Homo sapiens: one gene and its partners. The protein of the gene in region 4 purifies or fractionates together with the protein of the main gene of each other region. This does not show direct contact. Each region holds a gene or a part of one and is shown on either strand. Other genes may lie near its edges. The genes, in order: DNAJB4, NMT1, SNAP29, ANGPTL4, ARMC8 and MKLN1.

Region 1 (3,526 bases), on a different chromosome or scaffold from region 4:
ATTGTCAATATCCTTTAAGATAAGAGAGATACTGGTATACTGGTTTTGTGTAGTTATGTAAATTTATTTACTACTAGAATAATAATTCTCTGCTTAAAAAAACTTTTTAATCCAAAGATTATTATATATCTATCTATAAATCATTTATTTTACCTGGGAGAAAATGCTTAATCAAGAAAATTGCAATAAATAATGATGGGTTTAAAACAGAAACCACTATCATTCACCACGTTGACTGATGCTTTTCAGATCTAGATCTTTAGACTTGTGAGAAAATTTCTGTAATGTTCACACTTCTGTAGGGAGTTTTAACTGTCATTCAGAGAGACAGTTATAGAGGAATCATTTATGAATTAGAGTAATAAATACGATTAGCTGAATTCTGTGGCATTTTTTTCAAGCATTTTCCATTTGCAACTCAAATATATGGTTACTCCCAGAAATTCCACTTTTAGGTATATACCCATGAGAATTGAAACACAAAAACTTGCACACAAATGTTCACAGCAGCATTATTTATAATAGCCAAAAAAGTAGAAATAAGCCAAATGCCCATAATTAATGAAAAGATAAACAAATTGTGGTATATCCATATGACGTGCCACACAAAAAATAAAGTACTGATACGTGATACAACATAGATGAACCTTGAAAACATTAAGCTAAATGAAAGAGGCCAGACCAAAAAAAAAAAAAGCCATATATTGTTTGAGTCTATTTATGTGAAATGTCCAGAACAGACAAATCCATACAGATGAAAAGTAGATGGTAGTGTTTTCAGGGGCTGGAGGAAGGGAAGAATGGGAAGTAACTGCTAATGGATTTAGGATTTCTTTTTGGGGTGATGAAAATATTCTGGAATTAGAAAGTGATGATGATTGTACCACTTTGTAAATATCACTAAAAACCACTGAATTATATATTTTAAGGGTAAACTTTATGGCATGTAAATTATATCTCAATAAAGTAATAAAGAATATGGCTATTATAACCTATTTATATTGGATTTCTAAAAGAATATTTCATATTCTACTAAAAGGCGATAGGATCCAGTATATATATATATAATCCTGAAAACTATTTTATAACCAAAAATTTTGCTTCAAAACATCATTCTCACTATAGTTATAAAACAGAAAACAAAACTAAATTTTTAAAACATAAATATATTTAAAAAATTAAAACACCTAAGAAATGCAATCTATACATGTGAAAAAGTAAAATATTTATATGCATAACAAGTAGTTGCAACATTATCCATAAGCAGCAGTTAGTGTTTATTTTCCCTATATTTTGGTTTAACACCATAGTGTAGTGGTAGTTCATTCTTTTTAGGGAAATTACATAAAGTACATATAGAATATTATTAGTAAGTTATAGAAGACTGTATAACTGGAAAATTAATTCCAAGTAACAGCATTTCCTCTAAAAACACATCTATTATTAAACGAATTACTTTAAACTAGCAGAGAACAAAATGAGCCTATAATTTATTAAGTACAAGATATATAGTCAACTTGCATAAAATTACATATGGCATTTTAAAAAGTCTATTCTAAAATATCAGTAATTCAAGCAATTGGGATTTCCACAGGAGAGAAATTGCCATTACTTTCCTTTTTATGAAGAAAGATCTGCCTTAAGAACATCACAACGATGTTATTAAGAAATGCTACAGCATACTTTAAAAATCAAAATGGTGAAACAGATGCATCAGGATATTCTTTTACAGATACCAGCCCTATAGCAGCATTTCAGAAGGTGATTTAAATCTAATAACTGACTTGGGTTTTTATTCTCTTCTAGAAATACATATTACATGTATAGTTTAGTTAAGAATTTTCATTTCCATTATAAATGGGAACTTTTCATACTGATTATCTAAAGGTATAAGAAATTAAGTAATTGGATAGTCTAGCACTTCATTAGAAATATATCCACTGACTCCACAAAAACAACTTTTACATATAAGCAAATTACTAAAAATATCTGAATCAGGAGAAATGAAATAAAATACAGTGAATGGTTTTCTCTTTTATCTCTAACTGTAAAAATCCCTTTTGCCTATTTATTTGACCCGTCTCTATTCATGCAATTTAATGAACCCTCAAAAGAATTTACACATCTTTATACAGAATTCACATCTACATCAGTAAACTACCAGTCCTTTTATATTTTCAGTGCCTTATCAAAATATGTGTAACAAAGTTCTTCATTCTATGAGGCAGGAAGATGTTTCCTAAGTACTTCTTTGGATGAAGAAGATATAGTATCTGGGAAGGACACCTCAAATTCTATTAGAAGGTCACCACGTTGGTCAGGATTTTTTGGAAATGGCAGCCCATATCCAATAATTCTTCTCCTCATTCCGGGTTTCACAATATCATTTACTGACATAGGTATGTTTCTTCCATCCAGTGTTGGTACATTAATTGAGCAGCCACACAATGCCTAAAATGGACCAAATAAAATAAAATGAAAACACTTCAAAACTCAAAAATCTAAGCACAAATTTTACCAGATGGTAAAGGATAATACCACTAAGGTAAAACTTTAACCTCCAAAAGAATAACAATAGTTATAAATTTTTTTTCCTCATTAGAAAATTCCTTCAGAGGTCAGGCACGGTGGCTCACACCTGTAATCTCAACATTTTGGGAGGCCAAGGCGGGCAGATCACCTGAGGTCAGGAGTTCAAGACCAGCCTCACCAACATGGAGAAATCTTGTCTCTACTAAAAATACAAAATTAGGCGAGCGTGGTGGCACATGCCTGTAATCCCAGCTACTCGGGAAGCTGAGGCAGGAGAATCACTTGAACTCAGCAGGCGGAGGTTGCAGTGAGCCGAGATCGTGCCATTGCACTCCAGCCTGGGCAACAAGAGCAAAACTGTCTCAAAAAAAAAAAAAAAAAAGAAGAAAGAAAGAAAGAAAAAGAAAAAGAAAAGAAAAGAAAAAAAGGAAAATTCCTTCAGGACATGCATTATTAGATATGTTACAAAAAAAAAAAAAAAAGAAGAAGAAAAGAAAAGGTAAAAGAGAAGTAAAGGATATATTCCACATTGCCCTGGAATGACATGGTTATTTTGAAGCTGCTATTAATATATTCAAGATGCAGGGATTGGAATGGGAGAAGAGGGAGAAATTCAGGACTAGAAAGAACTGGATAGGAGCAACTATTTCTCTGGAAAGTATTAGGACAAGAAATATATTTGTTTTAGATAACAAATGTTTACTGAGCATTTACTATATGCCACACATTCTGGCTAGATGGTGAGCCTTATAGGGACCATGAACACAGACCCCAGCTCAAGGAATGCACAAGGAACTCACAGAAACATAGAAGCAAACTAGCCATTATAATACTGTATAGTGTAAGAACAGAGGTAAGCATGGAGGTCTTTTGTAAGAGAAAGAGCACCCAACTTAACCCCTTAGATTCCGGGAGTAGAGGATGCTTGAACTAAGCATTGGGCAGTAGCAGGTAGGTATTAGAGCAGGGTAAGAAACAATAGTGTTCCATAGAG
Region 2 (3,500 bases), on a different chromosome or scaffold from region 4:
AAATCTAAAGATCTGTGAAAATGAGTTTGGAGGTAGTAGGTGAAAAACCAAGGGCCTAGTCTGGAGGAGAGAGTCTAATTCTGGCACTAAGAATCTGGGGTAGAGTCAACATTTTTCCATGAACTTTGAGAGGAAATGGTTTTGGGGAGAAGCAGCAATGTGGGAAAATGCAGCACGGCACAGTAGAAAAGCATGGACTTTGGAATAATTTAAATCTGGTCTGAGGCCAGGCGCGGTGGCGCACATCTGTAATCCCAGCACTTTGGGAGGCTGAGGTGGGCAGATCGCTTGTGGTCAGGAGTTTGAGACCAGCCTGGCCAGCATAGTGAAACCTCATCTCTACTAAAAATACAAAAATTAGCTGGGCATGATGGCAGGCGCCTGTAATCCTAGCTACTTAGGAGGCTGAGGCAGGAGAATCACTTGAAAACAGGAGGCAGAGGTTGCACTGAGCTGAGATCTCTCCAGTGCACTCCAGCCTGGGCGACAGAGCAAGCCTCTGATCTCAAAATCTCATCTCAAAGCTTGGCTCTGACACTTAACAGTCCTGTGACCTTGGGAAAGGTACTTAACTCAGAGTTGTAGGGATTAATGAGATAACATCTGGAATGCACTCCTTTTCCTCCCTCCTCCTCTTTCTTCAGATCGTCCCTAACCTCCCAGCTTGCCCCTCTGCTCTTATCACATACTGTATTGTAGCTTTTATCGTAACAATAGTTATAATAACAATAAATATAACTACATGTTTGGTAATTTTTCTTAATGTGTCTGGTACCTGTCTCATCTGACAGTAAGGAGCATGTAAACAGGATTGTGTCTTCGAAATGCCTAGCACTTAGTGGGCATTAATGAGTATTTGCTGTATGAATGAATGGCAGATATTAAAGTGCCTAGCCCAGTATTAGTGGAGTTTCATCTCCCCTCACCAAGTGAGAGGATGTCAGATTTTTCTTACATACACATTTTCTCTCCCCAAATAATTCTCATTGTAAGCCTCACTACAGTTTTTATGAAATACCTACAGAGGCAGGGCATGGTGGCTCACACCTGTAATCCCAGCACTTTGGGAGGCTAAGGCGGGCGGGATCATGAGGTCAGGAGATCGAGACCATCCTGGCTAACACAGTGAAACCCCATCTCTAATAAAAATACAAAAAATTAGCCAGGTGTGGTGGCGCATGCCTGTAGTCCCAGCTACTCGGGAGGCTGAGGCAGGAGAATGGTGTGACCCTGTGAGGCGGAGCTTGCAGTGAGCCGAGATTGCGCCATTGCACTCCAGCCTGGGCGACAGAGCCAGACTCTGTCTCAAAAAAAAAAAAAAAAAAAAAGAAATACCTACAGAAACCAGGAAGCTCCAATTTGCTGTGGAGCTTTCCACTGTTGTGTGCTTTCCACTGTGTTTTGCTTCTTGAAATGTTTTTTGTCTTAATATTATTTAAAATGTTCTCAAAAATCATGTAAAAATTGACAGAGAAGTTTTCCTTTCAATGCTAGAGAGTCTAAAATGTGTAATATATAATAAAGGTTAATGATAGTTCGAGCTAACCCTTATTCTCCTGGGCCTTTTTTTTTTTTTAAAGAGACTGTGTCTCGCTATGTTGCTCAGACTAGTCTCAAACTCCTGGGTTCAAGTGATCCTCCTGCCTTAGCCTCCCAAAGTGCTGGGATTGTAAGCATGAGCCACCACACCCAGCCTCCTGCCCCTTTTTTTCAGGAACTAAAGTCATAGTACTCTATGCTAATAAAATGAGCTAAATTCATGTACTGGATTCTGTTGCCCGGGCTGGAGTGCTGTGGCGCGATCTTGGCTCACTGCAACCTCTGCCTCCCGGGTTCAAGAAATTCTCCTGCCTCAGCCTCCTGAGTAGCTGGGACTACAGGAGCACACTGCCACACCCGGCTAATTTTTCATATTTTAGTAGAGACGGGGTTTCACCGTTGTTGCCCAGGCTGGTCTTGAACTCCTGAGCTCAGGCAATCCACCTGCCTTGGCCTCCGAAAGTGCTAGGATTACAGGTGTGAGCCACCACGCCCGGCCAGTTGTATTAGTTACTTATGTCTCTTTGTATATGAATTTAGTTCTTGACTTTTCTGGTCTTGTGTTTCCTCCGTAATTAAATCAGCATAAACATTTGGTGAATATAAAACTTCATGTGGTTGTGTGTAGTGGCTCATGCCTGTAATCTCAGCACTTTGGGAGGCTGAGGCAGAAAAATCACTTGAGCTCAGGAGTTCGAGACCAGCCTGGGCAACATGGTGAGACCCCATCTCTATAAATAAAAACAAAAAAACCCAAACCCTTCATGTATACATATAGGTATACATGCATACATATGCAGTGTGTATGGGTGCGTCTCTTCAGTTTTTCTATTTAAAAATTTTTTAATTTAATTTTAAAATTATTGTTATTACTTTGGAAACAGGGCCTCGCTCTGTCGTCCAGGCTATAGTACAGTGGTGTGATCATGGCTTACTGCAGCCTTTGACCTGGGCTCAAGCGATCCTCCCACCTCAGCCTCCCAAGTAGCTAGGATTGTAGACATGCACCATCATCCCTGGCTAATTTTCTTTTTAAAAAGTTTCTGTAGAGATGGGGTCTCACTATTTAGCCCAGGCTGGTCTCAAACTGCTGGCCTCAAGTGATGCTGCCACCTTGGCCTCCCAAACTGCTGGGATTGTGGGCATAAGCTCCTGCATCCAGCTGGTTTTGTTTGTTTTTTTACTGCACTCAATTTCCCCCAGTTACGTGCCTAGCGTAATTATCCTGAACAATTGAGAGGAGAGTCAGATAAGATAACCTTTATGCAGCATCCCCCTGTAGTTCGTGATTCATCTATATGGTTTAATTTGATTTTTTTTTTTTTTTAATGAGAGTCTTTCCAAGAAGTATTGCCAAAGAATAAATCTCATCAGTTGGCAGATTTTAATTTGGGGGTAATAAGTGAAGATTGTCTGAGTGTTTTGGAACAAAAAAGAACTTTTAGACTATTGTGTTCTAGGAATCTTTCGGAATTTATTTTGCAGTGTCTTCAGTGTCATTGAGATCCTGGTAAGCACGGGTCAAGAGCCCTCTGACAAGAGGTGTCTCATCTCCATCCTGCTCTCTTACTCCCTGGGACAGGTTAACATGGATTCTTTATAAGTTCTCCTCATTTCCTGGTTGTGAGATACTATCCCTTATGAAAACTTAGGAGGAGAGAAAAGTCTTTCTGAAAATAAATTCCATAAAGCTAGCCTTACTTGTTTTTGTTTTTTTCTTCAGCTTCTCCAAGAGTCGTTCTTTCCCTATTTATTTGATGGCTTATAGCTGCAGCTAGCTCTTGGAAATAAGAAATCTTTTTAGTTCCTTTTTAATTTCTCCCTTCAACTTTTGGTTTTTCAAAACTAGATCAAAGCAGAATGGAAAGAGAAACCTCATCACTGATATCAAATAAGTGTTCTAATTTTGTTTCCCAATTAAATGGCAATTAAAAAGAAACTAATCAAGAGCTGCTTCAAAG
Region 3 (3,500 bases), on a different chromosome or scaffold from region 4:
TCCTTGGGACAATGTGGCAGCTGTGAGTGGATGTGCCCAGGAAGGAGAAGCCAGAAGCTCGAACAACCAGCCCATCCTCAGAAGGCATCCTGTTACAGCCAACAAGCCAGCAAATTGGCCTGGGATCAATGGTCTAATTCTTTTTTTTTTTTGAGACAGGGTCTCACTTTGTCACCCAGGCTGGAATACAGTGGCATGACCTCAGCTCACTGCAGCCTTGACCTCCCTGGTTCAAGAGATCCTCCTACCTCAGCCTTCTGAGTAGCTGGAACTACAGGCATGCACCGCCATGCCCAGGTAATTTTTGTATTTTTTGTAGAGCCAGGGTTTTACCACATTCCCCAGGCTGATCTTGAACTCCTGGGTTCAAGGGATCCACCTGCCTCAGCCTCCCCAAGTGCTAGGATTACAGGTGTGAGCCACCACACCTGGCCATCAATGGTCAAATTCAATCATTGATAGTTTACCAAAAATTAATTAAAAATAAATCCCGAACAGACCTAGCGGTGAGTATGTGGTCCAATGCCATTTCTCCACCAGACTCCCTCCCACCTGCTAGACACAGCCTGACATGTGTTGGGATGCATTTTCTGGTCACAGGACAGGCATTGCAACCAAGGCACACAGCTCAATGCATTCTTTCCACCCAACTCTCTCCTCCTTTTTCAGGCAATCTTCTGTTCCCTCCCTCCTTCCTTTCCTTCCCCAGGTCACTTATTCATTTGGCAACTATTTTGGGAGCGCCAATAACGCTTAAGGACATTGTGCTGAGAAGCGTGGGGGTAGAAAGTTGAGCAAGAGATGGGTAAGAGACTGCTCCTCTTCCACTGCTGACATTTACAAATTTGAGGAATTACTTAATCTAGCAGCTGCTTGTCCCCATCCATCAACTTTTGCTAAGAACTCTGGCTGCATCAGTATCACCACACGCTGCCTCAGAGGGGTGACTTTGGTCTGTACGGCCCCTCATTTGGAGTGGGCTGCTCCAAGACCAGAATCCCTGAGAATGAGGATATCACCTTTTGGCAATGTATCTACTCTAAGTTCCGGGGACACCTTGATGGCCTCTGCTCCTGGGCCAGGAGGGGTGTCCTCCTCTCTCCCACCTCTGAATGGAATGCCCAGTGTGGGTGACTGTTGTGTGCTGGAAAGACACAGAGATGGGTGGGCCCCTGCACGAGACGGTGTGGAGGATGTGCTGGCGGTGGCTGCTGAGTGCATCACGTTTGAACTCTCAAACTCTGTCCCTTTCCATTGATGTTACTGTGCCAGCCGTTCCAACCCTGGTCTAATGTTTGTTGCTGGACTCCCCTGAACCGAGATCTCGGGCCCCAGAAAACCTCAGTGGAGTTAAGTTCAGCTACAAGAGGGGAAGCAGAGTGTCCTGGGCAGGTGAGTCTCCTCCACTGGAGTGATGAAAAGGTGTACAAAAACCATGTCCAAGTAGGATGCAAATAGACTCACCAAAAGGTGTAAACAACCTCAATGCTCATCATTAGGGGACAGGCTGCATAAATAGAAGTCATTTGTTCAATGGAATACAACACAGCCAAAAAGAAAGCCCAGCTCATTACATACTAGTGTGGAACAAACTCCATTCTATTAAGCACATGCAGACCAGAATGTATACAATACTTCACTTAAAAAAAAAAACCCATTTTTATCCACGGCATTATCTCCCCAAAACACTGAAGGAGGGAAAGTGCCTGGCTGCCTTAGGGGCAGAGGGATGATAGGGAGGGAAGTGGGAGAAGACTACACCCTTTTGTATGTTTTGAAATTTTGAACCATGTGATTGGAATCTCTCTTCATAAAAATTAAACCTTAGGAAAAAAAAAAGAAGAAATCATGCTTACTAAACAGGGAAAGAGACGAGTGGCTTACAAGTCTCCCTGTAGTTCTACAAAGCGCCTACCAGGTCGGCCTGGGGAAACCGCCCTGCTCCCACTACTTCTCCTCTGTTCTTTTGTGGTCATAGCCTGTGGCCTGAGCCTTTGTGAGAAACAATCCTTGCCAGGTTTCACAGTAGGAGAAGGGCAGCTCTCTTTGCTAGAGGTGACTTAACTAAGCCATTTTCCTGCCAAGCTGGGACTGAATTATAATCTTCCCAACCTAATATAATTTGTAAAGTCCTCATCTTTGACATAAATCTGTCATGTGTTGGCATGTTTCACAGTGCTGGGGTAACCAGGCACCTAAGTTGGGTGATTAGCAGGGTATGCTGGAATTTGCTGGAAGCCACACTGTGCACTGAGGGTTGGAAGAGCTCATACTCCTCTGTTCCCATCCCAACACCAAAGGGAATGAAAGAGTGATTAGAGTGATTCAAAGACAGCTTGGAGCCTGTAATCCAGCACTGGGAGGCCAAGGTGTGCAGATCATCTGAGCTCAGGAATTCGAGACTAGCCTGGGTAACATGGCGAAAGCCCATCTCCACCAAAAATACCAAAAATTAGTCGAGTGTGGTGGCGTGCACCTGTAGTCTTGGCTACTTGGGAGGCTGTGGCAGGAGGATCACTTGCACCTGGAGGCAGAGGCTGCAGTGAGCCAAGATTGCACCACGGCACTCTAGCCTGGTTGACAGAGTGAGACCCCCATCTCAAAAAACCTCCCCCAAAACAAAACACAAAAACAAAGACAGCTTGGAGAACACTGGGTGTGGTGGAGATGTAGGTCATCCCTGACTCCCAGGGCTTCTCATAATTGAGAACTGACCCAATCCTGGAAAATTCCAACATGTTGTCTCACTGACAAGAGCACCTGTCACCTGCCCAGTCATGACCACACTGTACTTCTCACAGCAATGCCTGGCCTGGCCAAGCCTGATATGCCTGAAGTGCCACTCTGCCTCAGCTCTCACTGTCCCCACTGCATAGAAAGACCTTTGGGGGCAGCACGGGGCATGTCATCACAATCTATATCAAACTCACCACTATTACATTTTTGCCTCTCCTGCGCTATGAGACCAGAACTTTCCCTATGACCTCCAAGGGCTCCTAAGCTACCTCCTCCATCCCCTGTCCTCTAACACACCCAGTCTATCATGTCCCTCCTCTGGACCCAGGAGCTCTGTTGCTGGGCCAGTGCATTTGCATATTTTCCTGTCTTCCCTAAGAACATCCCTCATTCTCACTCCTCTTGTGTAAACCTCAGCCTTAAAAGCTAGATTCAAGTTTATCCTCTGCCACAATGCCCTACTTTGAATCATTGATTCCCTACTTCATTTGTTCTCAGTTTACAAAGATGTCTCCTTAAATAGTTGTTAGTTGAATTCCTTGGGCTTGAGATCCTCAATCATGTGACCCATTCACCAGGGCCCTAAAACCTCAGGCAATCCTCTCAAATCTAAGCCAAGACTTCCCATTTAGAATGGAACATAGGAATCCAGTAGGTATGAGATGTAAGAACTACAGGCAAAACCTCCCTAACAAGGTTAGGACCGGGCGCAGTGGCTCACATCTGTAATCCCAGCACTTTGGGAGGCTGAGGTGGGCAGATCA
Region 4 (3,500 bases):
AATCTCAGCTCACTGCAACCTCTGCCTTCGGGGCTCAAGCGATTCTTGTGCTTCAGCCCCACAAGCAGCTGGAATCACAGGCACGCCCGGCTAATGTTTATGTTGGTAGAGATAGGGTTTCACCATGTTGGCCAGGCTGGTCTTGAACTTCTGACCTCAAGTGATTTGCCCGCCTCAGCCTCCCAAAGTGCTGGCATTTCAGGTGTAAGCCACCGTGCTCAGCCTTTGTTTTTTTTTAGAAACGAGGTTTTGTTGTGTTGCCCAGGTTGGAGTGCGGTGGCTATTCACAGGTGTGATCACGGCTCACGGCAGCCTTTAACTCCTGGGCTGAAGTGACCCTCCTGCCTTGGCCTCCCGAGTAGCTGGGACTACAGGCATGTGCCACCATGCCCAGCAAGGGCTGAATTTTATTTTATTTTATTTTATTTTCTCTTTTTTATTTTTTTGATGGGGGGACGGAGTCTCGCTCTGTCGCCCAGGCTGGAGTGCGGTGGCGTCATCTCAGCTCACTGCAACCTCTGCCTCCCAGGTTCAAGAGATTCTCCTGCCTCAGCCACCTGAGTAGCTGGGATTACAGGTGCACACCACCATGCCCGGCTAATTTTTGTATTTTTAGTAGAGACGGGGTTTCACCATGTTGGTCAGGCTGGTCTCGAACTCCTGACCTCGTGATCTGTCTGCCTCAACCTCCCAAAGTGCTGGGATTACAGGTGTGAGCCACTGCACTTGGCCTTTTTTTTTACTTTTACAAAATTTTTTGTAAAGATGAGCTCTCACTATGTTGTCCAGGCTGGTCTCGAACTTCTGGGCTCAAGTGATCCTCATGATAGGCCTCCCAAAGTGTCGGGATTACAGATATGAGCCACTACACCCAGACAAGGGCTGCATTTTAAAGAAAAGAGGCCAGGAGCAGTGGCTAATGCCTATAATCCCAGCATTTTGGGAGGCCAAAGTCGGCAAATCATTTGAGGTCAGGAGTTTGAGACCAGCCAGACCAACATGGTGAAACCCAGTCTCTACTAAAAATACAAAAATTAGCTGGGTGTGGTTGCTCGCACCTGTAGTCTCAGCTACTGGGGAGGCTGACGCTGGAGAATTGCTTGAACCCGGGAGGCGGAGGTTTCAGTGAGCTGAGATCGTGGCATTGCACTCCAGCTCCAAGAGCAAAACTCCATCTCAAAAAAAAAAAAAAAAAAAAAGACCAGCTTGGGCAACATAGCAAGACCCTGCCTTTAATTTTTTTGTTTTGTTTTGTTTTCAATTTAAAGAAAGACAACAGGGCCTATGGGGAGAGGGGCCCCTGGTGGACTAACACACCCTACCTGAGGTCATCTTGCAGTTCACCAAAAATGGCGGAGACCCCTGAGGCTGGATTTCAAATAGTCCACTCTGCCTCTCCCCAACCTGGAACAGCTCCTGGCAATCCCTGGGCAGCCCTGAAGGGAGATAAAGTGGAGACTTGAAACAGGAGGGCAGCCCCTGGGGGGGGTCTCAGGAGCCAGGCATATCTGGGGGCTTAACAGTGGATGACCAGGGAAGTAAAAGGCAAATCTTATCTCATGACCACCTCTCTGCCATCTGCCTAACCTCTTCCATGGCTCCCTATGTCCTTCCTCAGCATGGTCCACAAGGCACCTGGAGGACCAGCCCCCGTGCCCATCCTCCTCCTGCCATGCTGTACCCACACCCTCTCTGGCACACAGGCTTTCTTCCCACCCTTGTACCACACACCGTCCTGCCACAGGGACTTTGCACATGCTGTTCCCCCTGCCTGGGACTCTCTTTTTTTGTTTTGTTTTTTGATACGGAGTCTCGCTCTGTCGCCAGGCTGGAGTGCAGTGGCGCAATCTTGGCTCACTGCAACCTCCGCCTCCCAGGTTCAAGCAATTCTGCCGCAGCCTCCGGAGCAGCTGGGACTACAGGCATGTGCCACCACGCCCGACTAGTTTTTGCATTATTTGTAGAGACGGGGGTTTCACCATGTTGGCCAGACTGGTCTCGATCTCCTGACCTCGTGATCCGCCAGCCTTGGCCTCCCAAAGTGCTGGGATTACAGGTGTGAACCACTGCGCCCGGCGGGACTCTCTTTCCTCACTTCTCTCTCTGGGTCCCAGCTTCTGGAAGGACACCCTGCCTTGCCTCACCCCCAGACCAGGCCAGAACACCCCAAATGGGAATTGAGCAAGGACTTCCCACTCCTGGACACTGAGGTCATCTAATGGTCTCTCCTCTGACTCAATGGAGGCTCCATGAGGCTGGGGACAAGGAGCAGCTCTGCCCACAGCCTGGCACCAGCATCCACGCAGGCCCCAGCGCATAGCAGCTGCTCAATAAAGACTTGAGGAATGGGCCGGGCGCAGTGGTTCATGCCTGTAATCCAGCACTTTGGGAGGCGGGCGGATCGGTCAGGAGTTTGAGACCAGCCTGGTCAACATGGCCAAACCCCATCTCTAGTAAAACATACAAAGATTAGCTGGGTGTGATGGTGGACGCCAGTAATCCCAGCTCCTTAGGAGGCAGAGGCAGGAGAATCACTTGAACCCGGGAGGCAGAGGTTGCAGTCAGCTGAGGTTGAACCATTGCACTCCAACCTGGGTGACAGAGTGAGACTCTGTCTCAAAAAAAAAAAAGACTTGATAAATGAATAAAAATTAGCTGGGCGTGGTGGCGGTAGGCGCCTATAATCCCATCTACTTGAGAGGCTGAGGCAGGAGAATCACTTGAACCCAGTGGGAGGCAGAGGTTGCAGTGAGCTGAGATTGCGCCACTGCACTCCAGCCTGGACAACAGAGCGAGACTCCGTCTCAAAAAGCAAACAAAACAGTCTTGACAAATGAATGAATGAATGAATGAATGAGGCAGCAGGTCCAGAACGGGAAGAACTGTGCTGAGCAGGAGCATCTCAGAGGCTCTGCCTGGGGTCCCAGCTCCTAGAGGGAGAGGAGGCAGGGTTGAGGAAAGAAAGAGGGAGGGAGGAGGGGAGGATGGCGTTGAGCACGTCTGGAGGCTCAGACGCTCCAGACTGGGAGGAACCGCCCCCAGCCCAGCCGGAAAAGTAGGGGAAAGGTCGAAATGAGTCTGCACGGTGGGGGTGGGGGCGGGCCCAGAGTGACCAGGAAGACGCTTTCCGGCCCCTCAGGCATCTCCCCTTTCCCCTACTTTCCTCCCATCCAGTAAGGATGGGCACGCGGCCAAACCACCAGTGTGGCTTCCATGAATGCCAGCTGTTCGCCTTCCCAGCTCTGAACTTTCTCCTACTTGGCGGGCCTGAGCCAAGAGTCTGGGAGTCCCGAACCCACAGAACCCCTGCCCCCTTCCACCGCATTTCCCAGCCAGGACTTGTGCCTTCCCCCGTCACCCTCCAGAAGCCCCTCATCCTGGGATGGTGGCTTTGGGAGGGTGGACAGGACCCTGACCACGCTGAGATGCTAGCCTGGCGGGGTTGGGGGCGGGCAGCACGGAGGTGGGAAGGAGCGGGAGCTTGGGGAGGAGAGAACCCT
Region 5 (3,500 bases), on a different chromosome or scaffold from region 4:
CTTGTTAACTGAAATAAAGTGAGGTACATGGAAACATTCAATTTATTAGTTGTGCTTTTTGCATTGATTTTAAATCAAAGCTACTCACACATCAAATCTTATTGCTATTACTTCAGTTTCTTCAAGAAATGGTTCCTTTTCAAGTTATTTCAACAAATGTAAGGTTGTTCCATACTCCTCTTTCTACAGGCCTGAAGAACTTCTCTGAATCATGGTAAACTCTAATACTTTGTGATTTCTCTCACAGTGCTCCTTAAAATACTAATGCAGATGGAGAGATTTAGTAAATCATCATGTTCAGTAAATAATGACTAATTTGCTCTTTCTGCTATGGCTCCTCAAGACAGAACATGTGGTTTTGCTCTCTGATGGTCTTGAAAGCCTTGTGTAGAATTTATTAGGTTATACATGTTTTTGAGTGGTAAGTTCCAGCTTTTTGGTTTGTGGAAGGAGCCAAGTCAGAGCTTACTTACCACTATACTCCTCATCTAGAAGTATTCTCATCAAGAACATGAGTTCAGTGTTAGACTAGGCTTTAGTAACATAAGGGTGCTATACCAGTGCATACATTTTCTGGGGAGCTGGAAAATTCAGATGACCACTCACTAAACATAAAATCATCATTCCACAAAGATTTTATTCACATTAAACTTGCACAGTAGCAAAAAAAATCAAAACATAAAACTAAGCCACATATCAAAGAACAATATACAATAGAGATTTGAATTTCTCAATAGCATTGGAAGGTATTTCCATAAATAACATTTACAATTCTAATGTTAGGACTTTCAAGGTGTCTGAAGCTTCACAGTGCTAGAATTGATTTTTATCAGAACACATGCAAAAATGTGCAACATAATAATTCATATTAATGACACAAAAAAAAAGCACGCCAGTTATTTGTCATTCCAGCACGGCCATGCCACTCTATGTTCTAAAAACAAACAAACAACCCCCCAAATCCGGGTCCCATTCATTCTTCAATTATGCCTTTAGTCACTCTGCTTTATTATATTCAAACAGTCACTGTTAGTGCTCTTCACCACGACTTTCAGGTTGACGTCACTCCCTGCCTGCTGGCTGTCAGGACTGGGGGACGCCCCTCTCCCAGACTCACCTTCTTCCGGATGTCTTCATCATTTGCTCCAAGAGAGGCATAGAGCTTGAATGCAGCCTGGCGGAGTTCGTGAGCATGTTTTAAATCATGATCAAGCTATGGGGAAAAAAAGGATATGTTCCAACTCAGTCCATAAATTCAACTTTCAATAACATTAACTGAGTTGAAGAAAAAAAAAGTTTACAACTTTTAGATTTTAGTGAATTTCCCAGTCATTAACTACATTTCCCAGTTATTTTTGGATTCTGTTCACATAGCACTGAGACTTTGCAGTGTTCGTATCAATGTGACCTAAAATGCACACAATATGCTTCCATTTAAAAGTGAACACTATATTTGACACTGATATATGAAAAACCATTGTGAATCTCTGACTCCGAAAAATTCAGTGTTCCTAAATGGTAGCTTTACTGGCACTAATGCTTGCTTGCAGCAGCTCTTTGAAATGTTCTCCTTCAAAAGAAGGCACACCTGGACTTCTCTAGCCCCAGACTACAGCTGATAACCTGAATGAAATCGCAACAATGTCTTTAGGAGGGTTCCCTTAATTTTCTGAAACATTAAGAGTAGTGCTGGCCTAATTTTGGCATTTAAAAAGCTTTTAGAGGCCGGGCGCGGTGGCTCACGCCTGTAATCCCAGCACTTTGGGAGGCCGAGGCAGATGGATCATGAGGTCAGGAGATCTAGACCATCCTGGCTAACACGATAAAACCCTGTCTCTACTAAAAATACAAAAAAATGAGCTGGGCGTGGTGGCAGGCGCCTGTAGTCCCAGCTACTTGGGAGGCTGAGGCGGGAGAATGGTGTGAACCCAGGAGGCAGAGGTTGTAGTGAGCCGAGATCGCGCCACTGCACTCTAGCCTGGGCAACAGAGCGAGACTACATCTCAAAAATAAATAAATAAATAAAAATAAATAAAATAAAAAGCTTTTAGAAACAGAGAACCCATTGTGAAAATGCTTAACAAACCGTATACTATGGTAACCATTATTATCTATTACAGTTATCTGAGATTTATGTTGGGTATGGGTTTTTTCAAGAACATTATCAAAATTATCAGCATGAAGCAATTAATGGTATCTTTAAACATGCATAACTAATTATCAACTCTTCTATAAACTTGATCACCAAACTACTGTAAAGATAAAACAGAAGCATATTTTCAGGATACTTTCAATGACTGACTATGACCAAGTAACTATACAAAGTCTACCAATAATATAAATAACCTCGTAACTAAAAGCCTTAATGTAATCATCCAAATGAATACCACTTTTCCCAAAGAAGTTACTTTGGAAAGGTTCACTCATCCAATGATGTAGGTGTTGTTCATAACATTCTGAGACCCTCTTTTGAAACTTCCTAAAGAGCTAACTGGTATTATTAGCTAGAAAACACTGACAGTGGTATAGCTTGATCAATGATGAGACTTTTAGTTGTCACTGACTGTGTGTGAAGATGGAGAAATTCAGTTGGGTAATATAACGTAGGTAACAAAAAATTCCACAGAAAGCAAAAGACAATATATATATTTTACATATATATATAATTTGGGGTGGCTCTGAAGGCAATTCTTAATAGTTCCAAAACTTCTGTTCAAAGCAGACACTGATGGATTATAGGAAGAACTTCCCAATACAGAATACTCACTTTGATAAGTTCTAAAAGTATCTACTCTTAAAGTCTTAACTACATTCTAGTCATAAATTAAGATATAATACTGACTTGAACTAACATATCATGAAAATCACAAATTTATTAACATGTGAAGATTTCTCTTTACGGGTCTAGTGTCTATACTTTTCGGGTCAGAAACCTTTGGATAATCCATCATCAAAAATAAAGATGACAAAACAAACTATTACTCAAGTTTGGTATTACGATGTCATTTTTAAGGATTATTGTTGTTACAGTTTTACTCTGATGGAAATGAAATGGAAAAACTAACAGAAGGGATAATCTACGTACTAGTTAAATGATTTGCATATGCATAGGCTACATGTTCTTAAAATTGTTTCCTTACTCTCATGGCCATCAAAACATTTTATTTGCCTTCCTGGGGTGGTCAACTCAGGGCGTTCATGAGGCAGTAGCTAAGGGTTGCTCATGTATCTTTGTATTGGTAAGATACAGTGTCAGTGTGAAAAAATGACCAGAAGGAAAACAGACAAGGCAACTGGTTAAATGTATGTAACCCATCACTTCTACTGGAAAAACACCACTACTGAAAGAAGAGCAGACACATAAGTTTAATACCCAGAGAGTAGAGTACATTACTAATACAAATACCAGTGAAGGTTATTTTAGGCCCTTCTTAAGACAGAGTAAAGATATACCCTTAATAGTTTGCTTTATTTTCAAAGTTAAAAGCCAAATGAACAAC
Region 6 (3,500 bases), on a different chromosome or scaffold from region 4:
AAAATTCTGCATATAATGTCTGGCACTCCATCAAAAAATTGCCTAATAATAATTATTACTATTATGTTATTATCCACATGTAATAATTTATATAATATACAATAGAATATATAATTAACATACATTAATATACAAATATATTAACTATTATTATTATTTGGCCTAACAAGATGCAAAATCAAAAGGAAAGAGATGATGGAAATAGGCCTATAGGTGATACAGATATTGAAGTTTTCAGACACAGACTTTAAAGCAATTTGATTAATATGCTCAAAAAATACATGACAAGAGATTTTCACATAATTAGAATCTATCTTAAAAAGAGAGGATGAAATAATTCTAAAACTAAAAAATACTATAACTAAAATTAAGAATAGATGGGGTTAAAAAGCAGATTGGACATAGTTAAATTCAGAATAAGTGAACTGAAATACAGTCAAGTAAAAACTATCCAGAACGGATAAGAGGAGGAAAAAAATCATAAAAATAACAGAAGAGAGCAGGAGACATATGGGGGATAAAAAGTATAATAAAGATTTAATTGGAGTCACAGAGCAAAGGAGACAAAAATGGGGCAGAAACAATATTTTTAAAAAGTCAAAATTTTTTCACAGCTGATCAGTCATACTACAAATTCAAGAGGTGCCAGAAACGCCAAACAGGGTACAAACAAAACCATTCTTAGGTGCATCACTGAAAGCTGTTTAAACTTAAAGAAAAAGAGAATGACAAAAAGAAAGGCAGCTGAACAAGAAAGTCATACTACCTTCCAAGAAGCAACAGTAAGTCTGACGGCTGATTTTGCAACAGAAACAATGGAAGCTAGAAGACAATGAACTGAGATCTTTAAAGTGCTTCAAGAAAATAACAGCTAATAATGTAGAACTGTACAGTCATTTAATATATTCTTCAAAGATGAAAATAAATAAATTTCAAACAAGCAAAAACTGAGAATTCAGTACCACCAAACTCCCTAAAAGGAGTTCTTCAGACAGAGGAAAATTAATCTCAGATGGAAGCATGTAAATACAAAAGGAAATAAAGAACAATGGAAAGGGTAAATATTAACTGTACAAAACAACAGTCTCTGGATTTAAATGTAGACGTGAAATGCATGACAATGACAACATAAAAGCAGGAGAGTGATAAATGCTATTAAAGTTTTCTAGGGTCCTAACAATGTCTGAGATGTTGTTTTTCAAAATCCTAATGAATATGCAACTCTAATGTACCACAAGAAAGCTTGTGGTGATCTAGCGTAACCACCAAAAGAACAGTAACAGAATATATAACTAACAAGCTAACAAAGGGAGGAATAAAATAATATTTTTAAAACACTTGATTAATCCAAAAGAAGGCAACAATGGAGAGAAAATAGAATATAGAACAAGTAGGACAAACAGAAAACAATAAAATGACAGACATAAACCCAAATTTATCAATAATTATATTTACCATTAATGAGCTAAATATATTTCAGATTTAATTAAAAACAGGCAAACAAAAATCTGTTTATTCTTAACAAGAAACAGACCCCAAATATAAAGCTACAGGAGCATTAAAAGCAAAAAGGAGAGAGAAAGTTTTACCATGCAAGCAAACAGCAGCCAAAATAAAGCAGGTGTAGCTAAGAAGACTTTGAGGCGAGAGACAAGTGTTACTAGAGATAAAAAGGGACATGTTATAATGATAAAGAGCCAATGTACTAGAAAGATAAGTTTGTATGTGCCTAGTAATATGACTTCAAAATACATAAAGCATACAGTTTAGTTCTTTATAGAACTAAAAGGAGAAATATACAAATCCACAATCACAGTAAGACACATTTGACACTTAACCTCAAGACACCTCTCTCTGTAATGAATAGAAAAAAAGGCAAAAAAAAAAAAATTCAGTAAGGATAGAGAAGATTTGTACAACACAATAACACAATTTACAAACTTGAACTTAACAAAGTACATAGAAGACAGTAGTTAACAGCAGAATGCATAGTCTTTTCAAGGGTACATAAACATTTATAAAAATGCTGAGCCATAAAATAAGTATCAATAAAGGTCTGAAACTATTCAGAGTGTGTTCTCTAATCATAGTGAAATTAAGAAATTAGTAACAGAAAGATAACTAGCAAATCCCCAAACGTTCAAAAAGTAAGCAATACATTTGTTAAAAAAAAAAAAAAACCTACAGGTCAAAGAATAAGCCAAAATAAAATCTGAAAAACATTTTTGCATAAATGATAATGAACATGTAACATACCACAATTTGTGGGATACAGCTAAAATGTGTTGAGAGGAAACCCTATAGTCTTAGGACTAAACATAGCCTAGTTTTCCAATTATTATTAACAACCAATTCAAAATATAAGTTATGTTAGGGTACTTCAATCTAGTTAGCTGCCATTCAACAACTTTTTTAGGGACAGATTTATATTAGACTACTTAAATTATTCCTAGATAATGACTATGATATTTCCTTTCTCTTTGTATACTTTTTTAAACATGGATTAATCTTAATCAGTAAAATTTCATCATAAGCAAAACCCATTAAACAAACAATATCTTTGTTTATCTACAGCATAAATATACATACACAGTATTCTACAGAATGTTACTTTGACTTCACAGATTTTTAGAAATATTCGTAACCAAGTCCTGAAGTTCTCATTAAACAACAACAAAAAAATTTTCTAACTGAAACATCTTCCCAATGTGCAAAGATGTTAAAAAATATTTTCTTCAAAAGTCCCCCATATTAATAGATTTTAATACTGCTGGACTTCTCAGAGCTTTATCTGACCACCCCTTAATAAGCAACAATCTACAGAACCAGCCATTCACAAAACAAGCCCTGGGAAATCCGGTAGCAGAGAAGATACCCGGATCAACTATCCTAAGATTGAACCTATAAAGACCTAGAAATTTTATAAATTTTCTATTGTCTCTTATCAGAGATTTCTGACAAATGGTATTATAAACAAACAGTAATTAGGGATCTCTAAATTCTCAACTGTACATTCTTTGAAACATTTTATACATATTAAAATGTCTATAAATAGCTGTATCTCTAAAATTAAAGTCTAGAAAATCTTTCATATTTCCAAAAACGATTTTTGAATGACTGAAATACAGCAAACTCATTGCCACAAGTGGCTGAAATGTATCTTATCTACACGTAAAACATCACAAAGTCTTTGTATCAGGCCAAAAATCATTTATTAAAAATCTATTTAAATATTTACCTAAAAGTTAACGCAAATAATAGAACCATTTACCCATGTGCCCAAAAAATTGTACATAAACCTCTCAACATTTGATCAAGATAAAAAGTATTTCTACACAAGAAACTGACGCTCAGAAAAGAATCATAACTTGCCAAAAGTCACAAATATCTAATTCTAGGAATCAGCTCTGTAGACTCAAATTCTCATCCTGAGTACATTTCTTCCATCTTGAGTGTTTTTATTTTTCTGAAGTTCTAAGAGTCCCAGACTGAAAAACACA

What was found.
Region 1: the proteins of ANGPTL4 (region 4) and DNAJB4 purify together in Homo sapiens (affinity purification with mass spectrometry; one large-scale study listed by BioGRID and IntAct). This does not show direct contact.
Region 2: the proteins of ANGPTL4 (region 4) and NMT1 purify together in Homo sapiens (affinity purification with mass spectrometry; 2 studies listed by BioGRID and IntAct, with this or other methods). This does not show direct contact.
Region 3: the proteins of ANGPTL4 (region 4) and SNAP29 purify together in Homo sapiens (affinity purification with mass spectrometry; one large-scale study listed by BioGRID and IntAct). This does not show direct contact.
Region 5: the proteins of ANGPTL4 (region 4) and ARMC8 purify together in Homo sapiens (affinity purification with mass spectrometry; 2 studies listed by BioGRID and IntAct, with this or other methods). This does not show direct contact.
Region 6: the proteins of ANGPTL4 (region 4) and MKLN1 purify together in Homo sapiens (affinity purification with mass spectrometry; one large-scale study listed by BioGRID and IntAct). This does not show direct contact.

What each region holds. Positions count from the first base shown.
Region 1 is NC_000001.11:78,014,939-78,018,464, reverse strand, and holds the end of DNAJB4 (dnaJ homolog subfamily B member 4), read right to left. Parts: intron 2,452-3,526; coding exon 2,218-2,451; 3' UTR 501-2,217; downstream 1-500. UniProt on the Homo sapiens protein: Probable chaperone. Stimulates ATP hydrolysis and the folding of unfolded proteins mediated by HSPA1A/B (in vitro).
Region 2 is NC_000017.11:45,064,317-45,067,816, forward strand, and holds part of NMT1 (glycylpeptide N-tetradecanoyltransferase 1), read left to right. Parts: intron 1-3,500.
Region 3 is NC_000022.11:20,862,007-20,865,506, reverse strand, and holds part of SNAP29 (synaptosomal-associated protein 29), read right to left. Parts: intron 1-3,500. UniProt on the Homo sapiens protein: SNAREs, soluble N-ethylmaleimide-sensitive factor-attachment protein receptors, are essential proteins for fusion of cellular membranes.
Region 4 is NC_000019.10:8,367,155-8,370,654, reverse strand, and holds part of ANGPTL4 (angiopoietin-related protein 4 isoform a precursor), read right to left. Parts: intron 1,437-3,500; coding exon 1,323-1,436; intron 1-1,322. UniProt on the Homo sapiens protein: Mediates inactivation of the lipoprotein lipase LPL, and thereby plays a role in the regulation of triglyceride clearance from the blood serum and in lipid metabolism. May also play a role in regulating glucose homeostasis and insulin sensitivity.
Region 5 is NC_000003.12:138,242,801-138,246,300, reverse strand, and holds part of ARMC8 (armadillo repeat-containing protein 8), read right to left. Parts: intron 1,214-3,500; coding exon 1,118-1,213; coding exon of another isoform or gene 1,052-1,117; exon of another isoform or gene 1-1,051. UniProt on the Homo sapiens protein: Component of the CTLH E3 ubiquitin-protein ligase complex that selectively accepts ubiquitin from UBE2H and mediates ubiquitination and subsequent proteasomal degradation of the transcription factor HBP1.
Region 6 is NC_000007.14:131,334,376-131,337,875, reverse strand, and holds part of MKLN1 (muskelin), read right to left. Parts: intron 1-3,500. UniProt on the Homo sapiens protein: Component of the CTLH E3 ubiquitin-protein ligase complex that selectively accepts ubiquitin from UBE2H and mediates ubiquitination and subsequent proteasomal degradation of the transcription factor HBP1.